Linked DNA regions of Homo sapiens: region 1 is linked to region 2. The links come from fine-mapping of genetic effects on gene expression. Tissue or cell type: whole blood. Region 2 holds a variant in brackets; the other region holds the start of a gene. All regions are shown on one strand. Distances are between the middles of the regions.

The links. PIP is the estimated chance that this variant, and not a neighbour inherited with it, causes the effect.
Region 1: it holds the start of ZBTB24, and the variant in region 2 is fine-mapped to the expression of ZBTB24 in whole blood (TOPMed, PIP above 0.99).

What each region holds. Positions count from the first base shown.
Region 1 is chr6:109,479,698-109,487,785 of GRCh38, reverse strand. It overlaps ZBTB24 (zinc finger and BTB domain containing 24), which reads left to right and starts at 4,567. Exons shown (of 7, transcript NM_014797.3): 1 at 4,567-4,688; 2 at 5,732-6,711. The coding sequence starts at 5,760. It overlaps ZBTB24-DT (ZBTB24 divergent transcript), which reads right to left and starts at 4,142. Exons shown (of 4, transcript NR_187591.1): 1 at 2,949-4,142. RefSeq lists silencers at 4,067-4,506, 4,587-4,876 and an enhancer at 6,575-7,076.
Region 2 is chr6:109,666,077-109,674,180 of GRCh38, reverse strand. It overlaps AK9 (adenylate kinase 9), which reads left to right. Exons shown (of 41, transcript NM_001145128.3): 4 at 2,014-2,066; 5 at 2,166-2,262. Among named protein-coding and RNA genes, the nearest start is that of AK9, 21 kb to the left of the region's middle. The variant C/A (reference allele first, on the strand shown) is at 4,819.

The DNA.
Region 1 (8,088 bases), 190 kb after region 2:
TCCATTATTAATATCTCAATTCTGTTCTCAGCTCTGAACTCCAGATTGTTACCTATGACTGCCTACTGTACTTGGTTATCTAGTTAACATTTCAAATTTAATATGTCCACCCCATACTTGTTATCCAACCCAACTTCTCTTCTTCCAGATCAGTTAATGGTAACACCGTACACTCTGTTGATTTAGCCCCAAACCCAGGAGTCAATCTTGATTGCATTGTTTCCGTCACTCCGCACATCTATTCTCAGCAAGTCCTCTCAGAAAGACCTATCCCCCAAATCTACCTTGAATATGGGCTCTTCTTACATTTTACACTGCTGTCACCCTCATATCCATGCCTCCACTCATGTCCCTCCAGGATCTACTCTTCATCTAGCAGCTGGAGTAATTTTTAAATACATAAGTCAGATTCAACAGTCCTTTTGAATAATCTTCCAGTGGCCTCCTATTTCAGTTAAAATCGAAACTCCTTTTTCTTGGCATAAAAGACTTTACATGATCTGGCTCTTCTTGCCTTTAACATTCTCTCCATCCTTCTCTTTCTCTCTCTCTTTTTTTTTATTATTTTTTTTTATTTTTTATTTTTGGAGACAGAGCCTTGCTCTGTCGCCCAGCCTGGAGTGCAGTGGCATGATCTCAACTGACTGCAACCTCCGCCTCCCGGGTTCAAGAGATTCTCGTGCCTCATCTTCCTAAGTAGCTGTGCCACCACGCCCGGCTAATTTTTGTATTTTTAGTAGAGACGGGGTTTTGCCATGTTGGCCATGCTGGTCTTGAACTCCTGGCCTCAAGTGATCCGCCCACCTTGGCCTCCCAAAGTGCTGGGATTACAGGCATGAGCCACTGCACCCGACCTGGCATTGACCAATAACTTTGAAATGCCATTATCTCCTCTACAGTGTTTGAAGTATGCACTCTATTTGTACCAATTAAGTGGCTGTCCCTTACTCTTTCACCATGTATATGTAAAGCCTCAAGGTAATCAATAGCTGTACCCTTAAAACACTGGAATACTGATAACCAGCTTCCCATCTTAAATGGTATTTTCATTCAATATTTTAGATCTACTCTATTTGTTTACTCTCCGAATTAGACATTATTTTGCATAATCAATGTTTGTTTAGATTTCCTTCATACTTACTTTTTTCTCTTTTTTTTTTTTTTTTTGGCTTACAACTCCCTCTTATACCTCAGACTTTCCTCTTGGTGTTATTTTCCTTCCTATGGTATGGGTTTGTTGGAGGTTAATACTTTTATTTTTTGTTTGACCAAAATTGTCTTGATTTTGTCCTTTTCCATGATAATTGTAGTCTATAAAAAAGATTTTAGGTGAATTTTGAAAGTATCATGCCACTAACCTCTGGCTTCTACTATTGCTGTTGAGAAACCAGCTGTCATTTTAACTGGTTTTCTTTTATAGGTACAGTCATGCATTGCTTAATGACAGGGATATGTTCTGAGAAATGCATCACTAGGTGACTTCGTCACTGTGCAAACATCACAGAGTGAACTTACACAAACCTAGATGGTATAGTCTACTACACACCTAGGCTCTATGGTACAACCTATTGCTCCTGTGCTACCAACCTGTACAGAATGTTATTGTACTGAATACTGTAAGCAGCTGTAGCACAGTGGTATTTCTGTATCTAAACATATCAAAACATAAGAAAGACACTTAAAATACAGTATACTGATGGCTCATGCCTGTTATCCTAGCACTTTGGAAGGCCTAGGTGGGCAGAGCACTTGAGCCCAGGAGTTCAAGACCAGCCTGGGCCACATGGCAAAACCTCATCACTACAAAAAATACGGAAAAAAAAAAATAGTGGAGTGTGGTAGCATATGTCTGCAGTCCCAACTACTCAGAAGGCTAAGTGGGGAGGATCACCTGAGACCAGGAGGTAGAAGTCACAGTGAGCTGAGATCATGTCACTGCACTCCAGCCTAGGCAACAGGGTGGGATTTTGTCTCAAAACAAAACAGTATAAAAGAAAAAAAAAGTACACCTGTGTAGGGCACTTACCATGAATGGAGCTTACAGGAATAGGAGTTGCTCTGGGTGAGTCAGTGAGTGAGTGGTGAGTGAATGTGAAGGCCTAAGACATGGCTATACACTACTGTAGACGTTATAAACATTGTACGCTCTAAGCTACACTAAATTTATATGAAAAAAAATTCTTTGTTGGCTGGGTATAGGTGGCTCATGCCTGTAATCCCAGCATGGGAGGCTGAGGCAGCATTTATTTTTTTAAATGGGTGTCCTGTGTCTTTATTTGTGAAATCTGGCAACTCTCCACTCCATCTGCTGCCCCTCACTCACTGTGCTCCAGCCACACAGTCCTTGCCGTTCATCAGATGCTCCTTCCCAGTCTGAGCCTTTATGCTTGCTTTTCCCTTGCCTAGAACATTTTTATTCCAGATCTTCCCACAGCTGTCTCCATGTCATTCAGATCTCAGCTCAAATGTCACCCTATCCTGATTTCACTTCCCTGTCAGTCTCCATCATCATTCTTTATAAAATTTAACACTTTCTGAAACTATTATTCATTAGTTTACTTGTATATTTGTCCTGTCTCCCCTTAGTAGAATGTAAGCTTCATGAGAGCAAAGGCCTTGTTAGTTGCTGTATCCCCAACACCTGACGCCAATGTCTGGCTCTTAGTAGACACTCGATAAATATCTGTTAGATGAATGTATGACACCCCAAATCCTGTTCTGCAAGATTTAAATTTAAGAAGACCTGTTAGGGGTAGACCGGCTGGCCTTAACAAGAACAAAAGTTTTGAAAAAGTCAGTATGGATCCAAAACAAAATTGCCTTGAAGAAAGGGCTAGTCTGTGTTGTGGGTGGCTGATGCTGGAAGATCCTCCAGACTCAGTCTTTCCTCGCAGGATTATGCTCCAGTGAGCAATGATTGAATGAGGAAATGGAAGTACCTGGCTTACCTTGGCACTGAGTCTTCTTATGCCGTTGAGGACCTCTGGAGGGACAGTGATTTGACTGCAACCCTCGTAGCAGCAAGAAACAATGAGGTAGCTAACTTCCTGCTGGTATGCAGAAGTCAGGGAGCGCTCCCCATCCCACTTGTACCCCCACAAATCCAGAGGACTTAGAGACAATTCAATATGAAAGGGAAACCTCAGAGAAGGAGCATGTGTGGCTTGAGCTAGTTTTAATAAAATCTAGTAAAAATGTAAGAGCCAGGTTGCTAATTACACCTCCGGTTCAAGATCAGGGAGGCTATAGATGGCATGTTGGGAATCTGGAAATGGGCAGAAAAATAAGTAATTAGGTATTGGCTAAGAGAGAGAAAATGCTGAAATAAATGGATGGAAGCAGGTGGGGAGTAGATCTGGATGGGGCTTGTAGACCACATTAAGAAGCCTGGACTTTATCCAGAGGGCATGTGGGAGCCACATGGATTCTAAGCCAAGGAGTGACTCTAGTCTCTGGATCTCATATGTACTTGGAGAAATCCTCTGTACTTCTGCGAATTAAAGAGAACAACGCTGCAGCTGAGACCAGTTAGAAACAGTCTATTGAACAAAGATGATGAAAGTTTGAATAATAATGATCATTTTAATCACAGCAGACGAATTAAACCAGGCATTTCCTAAGCCCATTACATACTTAATTTTGTTTATGCAATAGCAACCCTACCAAAGTGGCACTAGTGTTAACATCTCCATTTTACAGGTAAGGTAAAGAAGTTGTGAGGGTAAGTAATTTGCCCAAGATCTCTCAGAACCCAGGTTTCTCTGACTGCAGTGCTCTCTTCATTCCCTTAGACTAAGGCATCAGGAGTGGGGAGGAAAAGGAGGCAGATGTGAAAAACATTTAGGAGGTAAGTAATAGTTATTATATTAGCACTAGATAATGACGATGGTGATGATGATGACAATGATGATGACGGTAAGGGGGATTTCATGCCTTTATACATTCAAGAACAACACCAGATTCGGTGTCGGAGAAGAGATAAAATTAAGGTATTGGCGTTGAGCTAACAGTTTAATACGATATAAAACTTCCCAAAGGGAGGGGTCACAACGCCTCTCCTGTCCATTGCCCCCAATTCACCGCAAAAGTCGCTCCTGCCTGGGCTCCCCGGCAGTGCCACACGCAGGACCTCGGGCGCCGACACCGCCCCGCCCCTGGCCGCGCCCCGCCCCGGCCACTGTCCCTCCTCCGAAGCCGCGCCCCTCCCCGCCCTGCCCCGGCCCCGGCCCCGGCCCCGGCCCCAAAGCCCCGGGCCTGCCATCTCGCCCCGCCCTGCCCCGCCCCGCCGCGGCTCCCCCGACCCCAGGCCTGCATTCTCGCCCCGCCTTGCCCCTCCCCTCCCCTGCCACGCCCCAACCCTTGAACTGCCTTCGCGCCCCGCCTTGCCCTGCCTTGCCCCGCCTTGCCCCGCCCCGCCCCGCCCCGCCATCTCGCCCCGCCCCGCCCCTCACCTCCCTTCCCCTCCCCGCCGCTCTCGTGGCCCCCACCTCCAGGGGCGCCTCTGCGGGCCACGTGGTTCGGCGTCCGCGCGCAAGCGGCTCTTGGCGCCGCGCTTCCGGGTTGGCTGTGGCTGTGGCTGCGGCGGCGGCGCAGGAGCAGAAACCGGTGCGGCGCAGAAGCCCCAGAGGCGGGCGGGGCGGAGCGGAGGGCCAGCGGGCCCCGGCGTGGGTCTCCCGCCAGGCCGCCGGGTGAGTTGGCAGCGACCCGGACCCCACCGGGCGCCCCTGAGCGGTAGGTCTGCCGCGCCGACCCCTCCCCCGCCGTGTGCTCCCCAGTCGGGCCCGCGGGGCCTGGGCGGGGAGGTGGGGGTCTTTCCGCGCCACCTCTCCCTGCTGGGACCACCCGGGGCTGCGGGGGGCTCCGCGCCGCCCCTAGTGTGTCTGGCGGCCCCACGCAGCTTAAGTTATTAGTATTTTATTGCAGCTACCTCACATTCACTTTGCACGTGCACATTTCTTCACTCTTCACATTGGTTCCCACATACGAAATGGCTAATAATCTGGGAGATGGAGGCAGCTTCGTTCTCCCTGAAATAGTTGTGCAACCATAGAAAGTTCGTGCTTGCGGAGGATTTTGGAGATGGTTAATCCCATTCCTTCATTTTATAGAAGGTAGACCCTGAACCGTTCCATGAATACTGGAGAGTCACTCAGCTAGTTAATGTGCGGCAGGAGGCTGAGGGAGAGAATTGCTTGAACCTGGGAGGCGGAGGTTGCAGTGAGCCGAGATTGCGCCACTGCACTCCAGCCTGGGCGATAGAGCGAGACTCCGTCTCAAAAAAAAAAAACCGCGAGCTAAGTTGTTTTGTTTTTGTTTTTTGAGGTGGTGGTCTCGTTCTGTCGCCCAGGCTGGAGTGCAGTGGCACGATCACGGCTCACGGCAACCTCGAACTCCCAGGCTCAGGTGATGCTCCTGCCGCAGCCTCCTGAGTAGCTGGGACCACAGGCGGGCGCCACCACGCCAGGCTAATTTTTGTATTTTTTGTATAGATGAATTCTCTCCATGTTGCCCAGGCTGGTCTCAAGTGATCCGTCGGCCTCGGCCTCCCAAAGTGCTGGGATTACAGGCGTGAGGCCACTGCGCCCGGGCCCAGAGCTAAGTTTGTAGACAGACAAAAATGGTAATGGTAAAATTCAGTTAATGATGTGAAGTGAATAGGAAGTTCATGTGGGCTGGCATTAACCTTTTAGACAGTGCTTTCTCCTTTTTAAACCTTGTTTTCTTATTTCAGATTTAACCCTTAGTGGCTTCTGAAGAAAATGGCAGAAACATCGCCAGAGCCTTCTGGGCAGCTTGTTGTACACTCAGACGCTCACAGTGACACTGTGCTGGCCAGTTTTGAGGATCAGAGGAAGAAAGGCTTCCTCTGTGACATTACTTTAATCGTGGAGAATGTACATTTCCGGGCCCACAAAGCCTTACTTGCTGCCAGTAGTGAATACTTCTCAATGATGTTTGCAGAAGAGGGGGAAATCGGCCAATCCATTTATATGCTGGAAGGCATGGTTGCAGACACCTTTGGTATCCTGCTGGAATTTATCTACACAGGTTATCTCCATGCCAGTGAGAAAAGTACAGAACAAATCCTGGCTACTGCTCAGTTCTTAAAAGTCTATGACCTGGTAAAGGCTTACACAGACTTCCAAAATAATCATAGCTCCCCAAAGCCAACAACTTTGAACACTGCTGGTGCCCCAGTGGTTGTTATCTCTAATAAGAAAAACGATCCTCCAAAGCGGAAACGGGGAAGACCAAAAAAAGTCAATACATTGCAGGAGGAGAAATCAGAACTGGCTGCAGAGGAAGAAATACAGTTAAGAGTGAACAATTCAGTTCAGAATAGACAAAACTTTGTGGTTAAAGGAGACAGTGGTGTACTGAATGAGCAAATTGCAGCAAAAGAAAAGGAAGAATCGGAGCCTACTTGTGAGCCAAGTAGAGAGGAGGAAATGCCAGTTGAAAAAGATGAGAACTATGATCCCAAGACCGAGGATGGCCAGGCAAGCCAGAGTCGATACAGCAAGCGGAGGATTTGGAGATCCGTCAAACTTAAAGATTACAAACTTGTTGGGGATCAAGAGGACCATGGTTCAGCCAAGAGGATCTGTGGAAGGAGAAAGCGCCCTGGAGGCCCTGAGGCCCGCTGTAAAGACTGTGGCAAGGTCTTTAAGTACAATCACTTTTTAGCAATCCACCAGAGGAGCCACACAGGTAATGATGTTTTCAAAGCTGATTGCAGTGTGTTGCAGAATTGGGAGTAGTGATGATAATAATAGCTTCCATTTACTGTGCAACTTCTGTGTGATGGGCATTGTAATAAAGCCTTTATACATGTTATTGCAGTTAATTTTCTCCACAATCCTGCAAGGTGGGTAATATCCTCATTATACATTGTATGATTAAAATCATATTTACTCATATGTAAGAGAGGGTTGCTAAAGTGCATAGTTTACAGATGAAGCAACCAAGTTCTAGGGAGCTTAAATAACTTGCCAGAGTCACCCGTTAGTGACAGAGCTGGGATTGAACCCAGGTAGCCTGGTTCAAGAACCCCTCTCATTTGTAGTTGTTGAATGAATCCTTTAATGTCCACTTATCAAGATCTAGCCCAATGTACCCTGCTTTCTGATTCTTGAACATTCTTCATCTTGACCATAACCATGCTTTTGCCCAAGTCTGTGTAGATCACTTTGTAACTCAGCTATCTAGCTTTAAATACCTTCTCATTTTTGGTCCCTCTAGCCCAGCGCTGACCAATGGGACCCTTCTGTGATGATGGAAATGTTCCTACATCTCTGATGTCCAATATGGTGGCCAGTAACCACATGTGGTTTTTGAGCACTTGAACTGTGGCTAGCGTGACTGAGAAACTGAATTTTAAATTTTATTTTAATTCATTTAAATTTGAATAACCACATGTGGCTAGTGGCTACCGTATTGGACACTGCAGTCCTAGTGAGAAATCCCTTCCTCCTTTGAGCCCTTTCAGGTGCTTAAAACCCACTCTGCTTTGGATCAGATTGTTGTTACCACTTGTATATCCCTCAACTTAATTGTAATCTTAAGTATAGGGACTGGGGCTTAAGTCTTCTCCTGTGATCCAGCAGTATCTGGTGCTGTGGTTCTCAGCCTGCAAATTGGAATCACTTAGGGAGCTTCTAAAACTACCAGTGCCTAGACCTCCACCCCAGAGCTTCTGATTTAGTTGTCTGGAGCCTTGGTGCTTTTAAAAGCTCCCTAAAGACTTTAGCTACAGATAGGTTGAAGAGCTTGAATTCAGGTACTTCGAACAAAGTGGATACTTGAGAAATATTTGTTGAACTGTAATAGGTTATATTTTAGCTTTTTTTTTTTTTTTTTTTTTTTTTTTGAGATGGATTCTCGCTCTGTCACCCAGGCTAGAGTGCAGTGGCGCGATCTCGGCTCACCGCAACCTCCGCCTCCCGAGTTCAAGTGATTCTCCTGCCTCAGCCTCCTGAGTAGCTGGGATTACAGGCACACGCCACCACGCCCAGCTAATTTTTTGTATTTTTAGTAGAGACGGGGTTTCACCATGTTGGTCAGGCTGGTCTCAAACTCCTGACCTCG
Region 2 (8,104 bases):
TCTCTAATATTTTATTATGAAAACTTTCAAATATTCATAAAATGGAGATAATTATACAGTGAATGCCCATATACTCACCATCTAGAGTCTGTGATTAACGTTTTGCTATATTTGCTTTATCACACATTTGTCCACCTATCAACCCAGTGAATATTATCTGCTTGGGTTTTTATTTATATTTAATTTAATTAATTATTATTTTTTTTTTTTGTAGAGACATGGTCTTGCTTTGTTGCCCAGGCTGGTTTCAAACTCCTGGGCTCAAACAGTCTTCCCACCTTGGCCTCCCAAAGTACTAGATTACAGGTGTGAGCCACAACACCCGGCCCAATATTATTTTTATAACAGCATTATCAATCCAATAATGTTTTGCCCTTCTGTTTGTCCTAGTTTTGTTCATAGCATTTATGAAATGTCATCAACTCTATTCTACTACCTCCAATTCTCTATTCGTAATTTAGAACTGTTTGGGATATGTGTGTTTGGGTGTCTTTTTATGAAAGCTCAAATGAGATGGAACTCTCACAGCTTTTCTTAGGAACATTTTTCAGAACTTAATTGTCTTCAATGATAACTTTTATTTTTTATTTATAAATTTTCTTGCATTCTTTGCAATATATAAGAGAATGGGTTGATATCTTTATATATAAATATTCTTTTAATTAATAAAACTATTTATGCCCTAATAGAAAAATAAGAAAAAGAATGAATAGGCAATTCATAAAAGTAGAAATAAAAATAAACAATATAAGAAAAGAGAGTTTAACATCATTCTAAGAAATGTTAATCAACATAACACTGGTCCATATTTGCCTATCAAATTGGCAGTGAATCTTTACAATTACTACAATCACTGTAGGTAAGGATGTTATGAAATGGGCATTCCACATGCTGTTAGTAAAGTTGCAATCTGGTACAATTTTTTTGGAGAACAATTTGTAATACATAACACACACACACTCACACACACACACAACTCTAAAAGTTTCTTCTTTCTTTGTTCAAAAAGTTTACTTCTAGGAAATCTTAAAGAATACCAAACATCCCATAGATTATTAATAACTAATGATATAACAACTCTCCTGGGTCCTCCCCTGGGTCATGCCCCTGTCATTCCTATCCCAGGATGTCCTCTATCAAGGAATGATACATTTCCTCTTTTAAAGGAAATAAATCATTGGAATTTCAGCCTCAAGACCCCTCTTTCTAATCAGTGTTTACCCATTTTAACATTTCTTGATTCATTTCCTTTTACACCATGTGCAAAACTAGCAGGCTTTGGATGTAATTGTATGGTTATGAAAATCTGGATTAATTAATACCAGTGCATACTTTTGTAACTAAATGATTTAGAAATCACTGTCATATACACCACCTGATTTCATCCTTACGTTCTATTGTACACTACACAGTACATATGCATCCAAGGTGCAGAGGCGTTTACAGAGTTAACTCCCCCAGGATTCTTTATTTTTTTATTTTTTATTTTTATTTTGAGACACGCCCTCACTTTGTCATCCAGGCTGGAGTGCAGTGACATGATCACGGCTCTCTGCAAACTTGACCTCCTGGGCTCAAGTGATCACCCCACGTCAGCTTCCTGAGTAGCAGGGACTATAGGCATGCACCATAACTATGCCCTGCTAATTTTTTAACTTTTTGTAGGAATGTAGTCTCCCTATGTTGCCTAGGCTGGTCTCAAACTTCTGGGCTCAAGCAATCCTCCTGCCTTGAACTCCCAAAGTACTGGGATTGCAGACATGAGTCACCATGTTCGCTTCTCCAAGATTCTTAAGCTTAGTAAGTGGCAGAGACAAGTTCTCTATGGAAGACATTCTGCTGCTTCTGCTTTGGTTAGGCTTAAGTGAAGTAATATGCATACATTTGCATTGTAAATTATAAAGTGATGCACAAATGTTAATCTTTGTTACCAGTTACAAGACACTAGAATGTGTTTCTTATTTTGGTGATCTTAATATCAGTCTGTATTAATATTTTGAATTCATGTTTTAGCTTTGCCAATTTTAGAAGAACAGATTGCTGCTGAAACCGAATCAGGAGTTATGGTAAACAAACCTAAATTTCAAAGTAACTATGATTACAAAAAAAGCTCTGTATCATAGATATATTATACAGTAATGTACAATATCTATGCTTGTCCTTAGTTGCAATCAATGTTGATCAGCGGTCAAAGCATTCCAGATGAACTTGTCATAAAGCTAATGTTGGAGAAGCTCAACTCCCCAGAAGTCTGTCACTTTGGTATGTTTATTTTAATATATTTACAGCCCACAAAGCAGCCTTAAAACTCATGCTTTATCTGAGGCAAAAATAGTTTCTGGAGTTGCCCTTTCTTTTGCCTTAGCATAAGAATCTCATTATCTCTATTCAGTTGAACAGCTCAGATGGTTTTATTTGCTTGTTTTTATTTCTCAGATTGTACATTTGTTTTAAAAATAAGTTTATATGACCCAATCTTCTTTAACATTGTGTTATCCAGTAAAAGCATCAGAAATCTGCTGTGGTCCATCTTGCAGTACTGCTAACTCTGCTGACTGCTTCCTCATACACCTTGGGTTATATTGCTAAGTCCTGACAATGGCTAGGGTTGTCTGCATTAATCCACACTTAGAAGGCGGGAGTGGGAAGTGGAATGCCACTATCTTACTGTTGAGCTCCAGATATTGTCAGGCTTCAGCCTGTTCTTCCAGTCTGCCCTCTGACTCTGGACCTGAAACCTCTCCTGGTACTCAAATGGATGCTGAGCAAGGGCTTTGGATCTAATTTTTCAAGACAAAGACCACTGAAGCTCAAAATGATTAAAAAGAAAAGAGCAAACTCTAATACCTCTGCAAAAGAAGAGGAGAAGAATAATGACAAGTTTGGGATAAAATCATCCACCTGAAATGGATTTACTGAATGAAAAAAGAAAAATTAAGAAAGTTGTTTTATATTCTTAGTAAGTTAGAAGAAGACATTGTAACTATTAATGCAGGAATAAAAATACAGGAAAGTAAAAACCATAACTGCCAAAGCAAATCAATGATGGAAGCAGCAAACGCAGCCTTGTCAAACTGTATTTACTGGTTTCTATCTATAGACAAAAAGATTCCTTTTCATATAGCTCATGTGTATAGAGAGATGATACATAGAATGTCCCATATCCACATATGTAGACAGGTCTCTATATGGATATATGGGTTTTTATATATAATACATATATAGAGATTAATATATATGGATTATAAATACATTATAAGTAGATAAGGTTTCTCTGTAAACTATCTACCTATCTATCCACTTATTACCTATTTGTTCAGCAGTGATAAAGAGACTGAACGGCAAAATATCCAGAATATGGAAGGCTGGATAAGTAAAAAGGCAAACAGGAATCACAGAATTCCAAATTACGTCAATAAATGACCTCAGAAAACATAGTATTTGAAACAGATATGTATATAGGTAGGTAAGTAAATACCTATTTGTTAACCTCACTTACCTCTTGAAAAACTTAAATTGGTTTACATGGCTACAAAAAAGATGACATAAATTATAAGTATTGGCAAAAGGAGAAAGAAAAAAAAACAACACGAAGAAACTCAGTTGTGCCTCTCATGGTGTTCATAATGTTTTACAGTTGTTATTAGGAAATAGTTCAAACAAAAGTAGGGAGATTAGTATAAAGATGCTTCCACATTACCACTCAGGTTCAGCATATGTCCAAAACCAACTCTAGTCTAATCTCGTTTCATCTACACTTCTACTTACTCCCTTCTCTCAACCTATGTTATTTTGAAGCTAATCCATATCATATCAGTTCATCTGTATAATGTTCCATTTATATCTCTAAAAGAAAAGGACACTTAAACCTATTACACATTACCATTATCACACCTAAAAAATTAATTGTTATTCCTTGATATCATCTACTAGATTTCATTAATTACCTCATAGATATTTTTTAGTTGATTTTTTTTGAAGCAGGATCTAACCAGGTTTCACATAGTACAAGTGATTAGTATGTCTCAAGTCTCTTTATATATAAGTTTCCCCTACTTCTTTCTATCTTATTGTTTCTTCTCTGATGAAGAAAACAGGTCATTTGTCTTGTAGAGTTTCCCACATTCTGGATTTGGCTGATTGCATTCCTCAGACCCCAGTACTTCCTGTATGCCGATACTTGTCCTAGGAGCTGGCAGAGGAAAAGTGATATAAATGGTTTCCTGAGTCTGGGGGCCACACCCTCACCATTTGGTTACAAGGCCACGTTCTAGGCATGCACAAACGAGCTCATTTAAAGGTTGCAGTGGAGATGGAACCTAAAGCGCCTTCTGCCCAGCCACCCCTTAACCCATCCTGTAGCATCCCACAGGAATTGTTTTAGAACCTAGCACTCGGCTAAATACAGTTTGAAAATCTTTGCCCAAATTCCCAGCAAGGCGTCTCATCCTGATGTTTGCTCTCAACCCGTAGCCTGGTAGAAGGTAGAAGCAAAATTGGAAGTGAAGGGTTTTCAAAACAGGGATATAAACTTGATTAGGTCAATAGATGCAGAAAAGGCCTTTGACAAAATTCAACAGCCCTTCATGCTAAAAACTCTCAATAAATTAGGTATAGATGGGATGTATCTAATCATAATTAAGCTATTTATGACAAACCCACAGCCAATATCATACTGAATGGGCAAAAACTGGAAGCATTCCTTTTGAAAACTGGCACAAGACAGGGATGCCCTCTCTCACCACTCCTATTCAACATAGTGTTGGAAGTTCTGGCCAGGGCAGTCAGGCAGGAGAAAGAAATAAAGGGTATTCAATT[C/A]GGAAAAGAGGAAGTCAAATTGTCCCTGTTTGCAGATGACATGATTGTATACCTAGAAAACCCCATCGTCTCAGCCCAAAATCTCCTCAAGCTGATAAGCAACTTCAGCAAAGTCTCAGGATACAAAATCAATGTGCAAAAATCACAAGCATTCTTATACACCAATAACAAACAGCCAAATCATGAGTGAACTCCCATTCACAATTGCTTCGAAGAGAATAAAATACCTAGGAATCCAACTTACAAGGGATGTGAAGGACCTCTTCAAGGAGAACTACAAACCACTGCTCAATGAAATAAAAGAGGACACAAACAAATGGAAGAACATTCCATGCTCATGGATAGGAAGAATCAATGTCGTGAAAATGGCCATACTGCCCAAGGTAATTTATAGATTCAATGCCATCCCCATCAAGCTACCAATGACTTTTCACAGAATTGGAAAAAACTACTTTAAAGTTCATATGGAACCAAAAAAGAGCTGGCATCGCCAAGGCAATCCTAAGCCAAAAGAACAAAGCTGGAGGCGTCACGCTACCTGACTTCAAACTATACTACAAGGCTACAGTAACCAAAACAGTGTGGTACTGGTACCAAAACAGAGATATAGACCAATGGAACAGAACAGAGGCCTCAGAAATAATGCCGCAGATCTACAACTATCTGATCTTTGACAAATCTGACAAAAACAAGCAATGGGGAAAGGATTCCCTATTTAATAAATGGTGCTGGGAAAACTGGCTAGCCATATGTAGAAAGCTGAAACTGGATCCCTTCCTTACACCTCATACAAAAATTAATTCAAGATGGATTAAAGACTTAAATGTTAGACCTACAACCATAAAAACCCTAGAAGAAAACCTAGGCAATACCATTCAGGACAGAGGCATGGGCAAGGACTTCATGTCTAAAATACCAAAAGCAATGGCAACAAAAGTCAAAATTGACAAATGAAATCTAATTAAACTAAAGAGCTTTTGCCCAGCAAAAGAAACTACCATCAGAGTGAACAGGCAACCTACAGAATGGGAGAAAATTTTTGCAACCTACTCATCTGACAATGGGCCAATATCCAGAATCTACAAAGAACTCAAACAAATTTACAAGAAAAAAAAAACCCCATCAAAAAGTGGGCAAAGGATATGAACAGACACTTCTCAAAAGAAGACATTTCTGCAGCCAACAGACACATGAAAAAATGCTCATCATCACTGGCCGTCCAAGAAATGCAAATCAAAACCACAATGAGATATCATCTCACACCAGTTAGAATGGCAATCATTAAAAAGTCAGGAAACAACAGGTGCTGGAGAGGATGTGGCGAAATAGGAACACTTTTACATTGTTGGTGGGACTGTAAACTAGTTCAACCATTGTGGAAGACTGTGGCGATTCCTCAGGGATCTAGAACTAGAAATATCATTTGACCCAGCCATCCCATTACTGGGTATATAGCCAAAGGAATATAAATCATGCTGTTATAAGGACACATGCACACATATGCTTATTGTGGCACTACTCACAATAGCAAAGACTTGGAACCAACCCAGATGTCCAACGATGATAGACTGGATTAAGAAAATGTGGCACATATACATCATGCAATACTATGCAGCCATAAAAAATGATGAGTTCATGTCCTTTGTAGGTACATGGATGAAGCTGGAAACCATCATTCTCAGCAAACTATCGCAAGGACAAAAAACCAAACACCGCATGTTCTCACTCATAGGTGGGAATTGAACAATGAGAACACTTGGACACAGGAAGGGGAACATCACACACTGGAGCCTGTTGTGGGATGGGGGGAGAGGGGAGGGAAAGGATTAGGAGATATAGCTAATGTAAATGACGAGTTAATGGGTGCAGCACACCAACATGGCACACATATACATACGTAACAAACCTGCACATTGTGCACATGTACCCTAGAACTTAAAGTATGATTAAAAATAAATAAAATAAAACAAAAGAAAAAATAATTAAGCAAATGACAACTAAAATAGTAACTTCAAAATGAGATTAATGGAATAAAATAACAAAGAGAATTAAAAAAAAAAACAACTTGAGTGGGGGGCTGGGTGAGGATGGATAATTGATGACTCCAAAATCCCTGAAGAGATATGTGCACTTCCAGGGACATCACACGGCAGAGTATTGCCAAATTCATCTTAATTTTGTTTTATACTAGAGCCCTTTTAATAATTGGTGTTTCCATCACTATTTTAAAAGGGCCTACACGATCTATAATTATCTTTTCATTCACAATCTATTGTGTTGTTTTGGCCCTTAGCCAAAATCAGCTTCTCGGAGCTATATCCTTACCCAAGAGAAACAGATAGAGTCAATATGTGGCATCCTAAAAGCTCCTCACTGCTCCCTGCTTCTAGATTCTGGAAAATCTCGTTTTCCCCAGTGAATGAATAGCCCCAGTCTGGGCATTCCCTGCCCCGAGTATATCTTTATGAATAGTCTTGCAAGTCATTGGTCACCAATGTGTCCACTCATATCAGCCTGGTCTGAGGTCAGATGGGTAGAAGAGATGGCTGGACACAAGGCTACATCAGCCTGGCCAGAGGTCAGATGGGTAGCAGGGATGGCTGAACACAAAGCTACCTGATATCTCTGAATCTGTCATCACTTCAATCTGAAAGCAGTAGTCTGCCATCTTCATTTGTATGGAAATAGAAAATGCCTTCTTCCCACTGTGCCAAGAAATGGTGGCAAAGTGATGGTATGGGCCTGAGACAAGTCAGTTTCCTCTGGGCAGTGGTCTGGACAGTCTTACAGTTTCTCATTGGTTGAGCTAATGAGAACTGGGCAATGGCCTACAAAGCACCTAGTCTGCCTATGATAGAACATGCAAAGTCTCCCAGCAAGGACTGGCTTGGGGTGCGCCACTCCTCCATCGTTAGCATGGAAGGGCAAGGGCTTGGTAATGGTCTCAAGGACATGTGGGGTGGGAGCGAGGAGTTCCTCATCTGTGCTTTCATCCTCACATGTCTCTGGAATTGGAAAGGTTGACACTGGGCTCAGTAGTTCTGGTCTGTTTAACAAGCAGTGTGTCCCTGGGATCTTCCAGAATTGGGACTAGAGGACTAATCTATTCCACTTTACATCTGCAATGGTGAGACAAACTTAGATGACATAATTGTCTATCCCACACCTCCTCCCATAGATACACCCCTAGGCTCTGGAATGATAATACTAGACATCTCTCAGAGGGTAGAGCCCCACAATTCATAGCTCAGAACATTCAGGCAGCCCAAACAATGGCCTTTCAAGA